Regions from separate parts of the Homo sapiens genome. Here region 2 is linked to region 1. Evidence: fine-mapped expression QTL. Tissue or cell type: spinal cord. Region 1 holds a variant in brackets; the other region holds the start of a gene. All regions are shown on one strand. Distances are from middle to middle. Region 1 overlaps PRDM16 (PR/SET domain 16). Region 2 holds the start of PRDM16 (PR/SET domain 16).

The links. PIP is the estimated chance that this variant, and not a neighbour inherited with it, causes the effect.
Region 2: PRDM16 starts here. The variant in region 1 is fine-mapped to the expression of PRDM16 in spinal cord (GTEx, PIP 0.97).

Annotation. Positions count from the first base shown.
Region 1 is chr1:3,311,845-3,314,733 of GRCh38, reverse strand. The region is part of intron 3 of PRDM16 (PR/SET domain 16); the gene reads right to left. LOC105378604 (a long non-coding RNA gene) reads left to right here. Exons shown (of 3, transcript NR_188664.1): 2 at 1,221-1,367; 3 at 1,505-2,889. Among named protein-coding and RNA genes, the nearest start is that of ARHGEF16, 140 kb to the left of the region's middle. RefSeq lists enhancers at 1,449-1,498, 1,255-1,549, 837-2,036. The variant G/A (reference allele first, on the strand shown) is at 1,562.
Region 2 is chr1:3,067,892-3,070,780 of GRCh38, reverse strand. PRDM16 (PR/SET domain 16) reads right to left here and starts at 1,578. Exons shown (of 17, transcript NM_022114.4): 1 at 1,485-1,578. The coding sequence starts at 1,521. LOC124903827 (translation initiation factor IF-2) reads left to right here. Exons shown (of 5, transcript XM_047436614.1): 1 at 1-567; 2 at 1,810-2,559; 3 at 2,733-2,889. The coding sequence ends at 1,833. It also overlaps the pseudogene LOC100420339. RefSeq lists an enhancer at 2,685-2,889.

The DNA of each region.
Region 1 (2,889 bases):
AAGAGCTCAGGAGATGAGGAGGAGGGGGAGGAACTTTTCTGAGAACAAACTGGCTACGGGGGCGAAGGCGATTAGGGGAAACAACAACAACACACAAAAACCCCCAGCCTTCCTTCATTGACACAGAGAAGGAGGGAGGGGGGGAGAGAGAGGAGAGAGAGAGAGAACGCTCACACACATTTGGCAGATGAAGTTTGCTCCTGGATGGAGCAGGATAACTATGTGGGGAGGCTGGGGGACTTTGTAAGGTGGGAGGGTTTCAGGAGCTCTCCTTGTCCCCATCCTCATCGTGGCCTTCCTCTGACCTGCAGACTGTCTTTGCTACCTCATTAGCTACACAAAAACAAATCCTTCCGATTCGGTACAGAGACACCATCTCTCTCTCCCTCTCCTTTCCAGGACCGATTTCAGAAACAGTCTAGGGCACACCAGGGTTGAGAGGAGCCACCCAGAGTGATGCAGACTGTCCCAGCTCTCTAAACTGCCACCCAGACACACCGGTCCTGTCCCTAAAGGTCGGTCCTCCCCCACCACGTGGGAGAACCTTGTCACGGTCCTGGAAACCCTGCACTCAGGACTCCCTGGGCCACTCCAGGGCTCAGGCGGTCCGCTCCTTAAGGGACAGTGACTTGGGTCCATTTTATGTTCCCGCCCCCCCCCCCGGTGGGGAAGGACGGCATTCGGGGGCGAGGGTCCCATGCCTGGACCTTATTCCTTGGGGTCTGACACTGGGTGACTCCCTAATTACATTTCATATTCAGATGAATGAAACTCTGCAACCAACTGATGTTTTCCCCACAATCGGCAATAAATCGCAGCCAGGGCGCGAACAGTGTTCACATTCGCTCCTATTAATGCTTCCTGTCTCTGGACGCTGGGCCGGGTCCAGATTCGCTGCACTACAAGGCTTCCTGCTGGAGGAGTGAGGCCTCTAGGCTGCGTTCCAGTTACAACTGGCAGCTAATGCCTTCACACATTCGCAAATCCCAGGCCCGCCGGGGCAGGAGGCGGCGAGGTTTGCCTGGGGTCAGCAACTGCGGCACTGGCGGAAGCCCCTGGGAGGTGGTTCTGGCCCCCAGGCGGGGTGAGTGGAGCGGGGTCCGCACGGCCTCGCAGGCGCAGGTGAGGGGCTGGGAGGGAAGGACTCTTGAGCAGGCCCAAAGGGACTATTTCAAATTTTGGATACAAGTTTCCATTCACATCTGAATTCCTCTTTCCAGGTTGTTTCTCTCCCCTGGATGCCTGTGGGGGTGGGGACGGCAGAGCCTCGGACACTGCCCGGGGATCACTCTCAGGCTACTTTTCCCACCCTGCCAAGCTGCTCGAGACGTCAAAGGAGACCAGGCCGGTCAGCACACAGGCTTCTGGTAAGTGCCGCCCTCCGGTCTGGGAGCTCAGCTCTCCCCTTCTGACTCACCGCTCGGCGCTGACTCATCGTGACGGCGAGTGGGGCTCCAGCTCCGCGGCATTTCATAGACAGCGCGGTCACATTCCTTTCCAACAGTCGCTCTGGCCTCGATGTCTAAGGCTCCGTGGGCAGCCGGCCTGTGGATGAGGCGGC[G/A]GAAACCACATCCTCTTCATCATCCTCTCACGAGGAAGGACACTGACAGCTTCGGAGAAGGCTGCCCAGTGTCTGCGGGTGCCCTTGGGAGATGGCCTTGGGACACGGTGCCTGTGCCTGTGTGTGTACACCACGTGTGAACGCCAACTGGGAACACGGCCCCTTCGTAGGCAAACCCAGGCCTCCTGGAAGTCACAAGTTGATAGCTGTACTCGCCCCTTTTGGAAGACGCACGCCCAAGGCACCCGTGTGTGCACACGTATCCGTGTGTGGACCTCTGTCCACACGTGTGTGTTTTGAAAAGCCTTTCTCACCACATGTTAGGATCACAAGTGTTCAAAATCTAGGCACACTTTTCAGAAGTTATTTCTGGAAAAAATGTTGAATCTCATAACAGCAATAAAAGGAAAATACCGCCTCAGCCAACATAAATGTCTCCTTGGAACATGCCTGAAAAGCGGCGGAGTATTTGTGTAAGTTTCAATTCCAGCGTCAGAGCCTGCAGCTTGGCCGAGGCCGGGTTCTGCACAGGAGGGTGCACGGTCCCTTTCCGAAAGCCCCTCACCGGACTTCTGGGAACTCCCAACCCATCCCGGGAACCCCACCTGCCGGCCCCGGATCCGGATGGGCTCCTGATGTATCCCACAGAGGGGATGCCAACGTCAGACACCAGCAGGCTGGGGAGGAGCGGCTGTGAGGTGCAGCCGGCGGGTGGGCGGCCAGCCTCCAGGACAGACCTCGGAGGAGGCTGGGGGCTGCCTGCTGCCCTCGGGGCCCTGTGGTCCCACCACACCCGTGCCTGTCCCAGTGATCCTCATGTCACCGGCCCAGTGAGAGGCTGCTGCTACCAACCCCGCCAGCCTGCAGGCCGCTGAGTGCTGGGCTGCTCCTCCTCAGAGGATGAGCGTGGGAATAACCCAGTGGGGCGAGGATGCTGACGGCGCCATGGATGTCCACTGAGGGCCCGAGATGGGCCAGGCCGAGCTCTGTGCTTTGGAGTCAGATCTCATTTAAACCCAGCAGCACATCCCATTTCACACGTGGGAAGGTGGGGGAGTCAGGATCAGAGAGCAGGGTGTCGCATGGGGGAGCAGCCGGGCTGCGATGTGAACCCTACAGTCTGCCCATGAGCCGCACTCCTGGGCTGGACACTCCAGAGCCTTCTCAAGCAGCTTTCTTGGGGCTCCCTGAGCACCTGGCTGGATGCTGCTGGTCTGGAACTCTGGACGGGGGCCCCGGGAGCTGACCTGCAAAGCTGTAGAGCGACTGTGAGGCACTGGCAGCTTTGCAGCCCCTCTGGACCCAGGGTGGGGTGGGCTGAGCATCTG
Region 2 (2,889 bases), 240 kb after region 1:
GGGCCTACGGCCGCGGGGCAGCTGTTGGGACGAGCCGGGCGGGCCCCGAGCCGAGGGAGCGGAGCTTCGGAAAACCGCCGCGAGTCCCGCGCGCACCCGGCTCACGTTTGGGGGCTCGGCCCCGGGAGCTGCGAGGCCGGCCTGGAGGGACCCGGCCCCGGAGGCGCGGACGGAACGGCGTGGGTCGGGCGGGGACCTCGAGGGGAGCGGCCCGGGCGCCTCTTCTGCGGGTGGGCGGGCGGGCGGCCTGCAGAGGAGGGGGCGGCGGGAGCAGGCGGCGCCGATTCCGCTCCGCGCGGCGCTGGCCGCTTCGCTGCAGCCGGGGCTTCGGCGGGGCTGCGGGAGCCGCGCTGGCCGGGCCGCGGCTCCGCCTGTCCTCACCTGCCCGCCCGCCTCACCGCGGATGGCGCCGGCGACCGGGGCTGCGGGGTGCGCGCGGGCTGCTCGGAGGCGCTGTGGCGGGCGAGGGCGCGGGTGGCTGGAGCACCCGGCCCGCGGCAAGGACCGGCTGGCGGCAGGCGGGGCGCGCGGAGCCCGGGGCTCGGCCGAGACGGAGCGAAAGAGAAAGTAAGACCGAGGACCGGGCAGCCTGGCCGGGGCAGCTCTGTCCCCGCCGGGCCCGGCTGTGCCAGGCAAGCGGGTACAGAGGGGTCCACGCGGGCCCGAGGGCGGCAGCGGCGGGTCGGGAGGTGGCCGGGTGGGTCCCTCCTGTCGGAGGCACTGTCGCCCCGGCGGCCCGCGCAGGCTGCCGGCGTCCCAGAGGAGCGCCCTCCACCACGCGGGGCACAGCCGGGGATAAACTTCACGACCACAGTTCCCAGCCCGGGCAAAAGTCTCCATTTTGCTCCCCAAGTGGCTGCGGCTGTCCCGCCGTCGCCACCCCTGCCCCTGCGCCCGCGGAGCCGGGTGGGCGCCGGCCCGCGCCCCCTCCTCCGCCCCTCCCCGGCTCGGGGTCTCCCTCCTCTGCGCCCGGCTGGCGGACGCCAAAGGCGGTGCTCTAGCGCCCACTATTTCAAAAGCCCGGAATATGATTTGACCAGGACTGAGAGCCACTCGGAGAGAGAGAGGGAGAGAGCGAGCGGGGAGGAAAAAGTTGCTCTCCCCTTTCGTCAACTTTTCGCTAACTTTCACTTTTCGCTCCCCTCCACCCCCGGCCCTCCCCCTCCGCCCCCCTCCCCGGCCCCCACCGCGCGCCTCGGGTTCCCGGGCCCGAGCGCCTGACACTGGTGGGGGGGGAGGGGGTTCCGCGGGGAGGGGGCCGGCGCCTTCGGGGAGCGCGCGGCCCGGGCGCCCCGAGCCTCCGCGCCGAGCCCGGTCGCCCCGGAGCGCGGGAGGCGGAGCAGCCCCCCGGGCCGCGCGGCCGAGCCGGGGGCCCGGAGCCGCAGGCGCGCCGGCCGCGCCCCGACGCGCACCCCTGGCCCGGGCGCCCCGGCCCGGCGGCCCGGGCCCCGGCGGCGCGGCGCGGCCGAGCGCGGGAGACTTACTTTTGGCTAGCTTCCTCGCCCTCGCCTTGGATCGCATGGTGTCGGCTCGCGGAATCTCTCTCCTCCTCCTTGAGTCCAGAAGCAGCCACACACTATCTTCATCTCCCCAGCATTGTCAGTTTGGACACCTTCGCACATGCGCACAGAGCACTCAATCTGACACCCCTCGCCGGGGCCAAAAAAACTTTGCAATGTATTCATCATCCTCATCGTCGCGCCGCCGCCGCCGCCGCCGCCGCCTCGGCGCGGGATTGGGGGGCTCTCCTCGGCCTTCTCGGTCTTCGTCTCACTTATCTCTCCCCCCTCTCCCCCCCCCCCTTTTCAGCGCAGCTCGGAACTGGCCCTTTAAGAAAACATTCCGTGTTCGGCGCTCCCGCCCGGGGCCCGCACCCCGGACACTTTAAAAGGACCCAGGTGGCCCCGGAGGCGAGGTGACTATCCCCCCACCCTGCCCCTGCGTCGCGGCGCGTCGCGCTGCTGCTCCCGCCCCAGCCGGGGCCGAAGATGGGGCGGCGGCTGCGGTTTTCCACACGACTTCCTTGGATCTCGGGGCACACGCGCCGATAGTTCGGACGCGAGTCCGGGCTGGTTTTGCTCCGTTTTACTGCGTTTGATTACTAATTTAAAAGCTTTGCGTTCCCCGTCGCCCCGGCCCGCTTTTCTCCTGCATTCTCCCCTCGGCCCCCGTCCCCGCCCTGCGATCGCTGGAGGGGGCGTCGGGGCTCGCGCGCCAGAACCCGGCTCCTCCGAAGCCCCCTCCGGGCCCCACCGCCCCCCTCGCGCCTCCCGGCCCCCGCCTCCTCCCCTTCGCCCCCACCCAACGGCTGCTGCTTCGGGCTTCGCGGCTCAAAAACAACAGCGGAGGCGCCGCCAGCTCCGCGCTCCGCCACTGCCCAGGCCGGCGGGCGGCACTCGGACCCGCCGCCCTCGGTCCCTCGCGAGGCCACGGAGGCCAACACGCCTCGCACGGGGGGACAGCGCGGGGGCAGCCGTCCAAACACCAGGCGTCCTCGGCTGGTCGTCCCAGGGCGCCCGCACCTCTCCGCCCGCGCTCTCCTGCCGCCGCGCCCCCAAGGTGAGTACCCGGCTGCGCGAGCGCCCGAGCTGGGCCACCTTCGGGGACCCGGGCCACTGGGGACACTCCCCTCTGGCCTCTCGGGGCCCAGGTGCGTAGCGGGCGGAAAGGCCAGCGGCGCAGGTGGAGCAGCTCGGACGGGAGCCGACCAGACGCTTCCTCTTCCCCTGTAGCCCCCAAACTCCGAGGCGCTGCGGCGGAGGGGCCGGGCTGAGCGCAGGCAGGGTGGCCCGGGCCCAGGAGCCTGACGGCCTGAGTGCGGATTTCTCATCTGAGTATCTGGGAATCGAGAATGAATTGGAAGGAAACCGAGGCGCTGCCCTGGCCAGG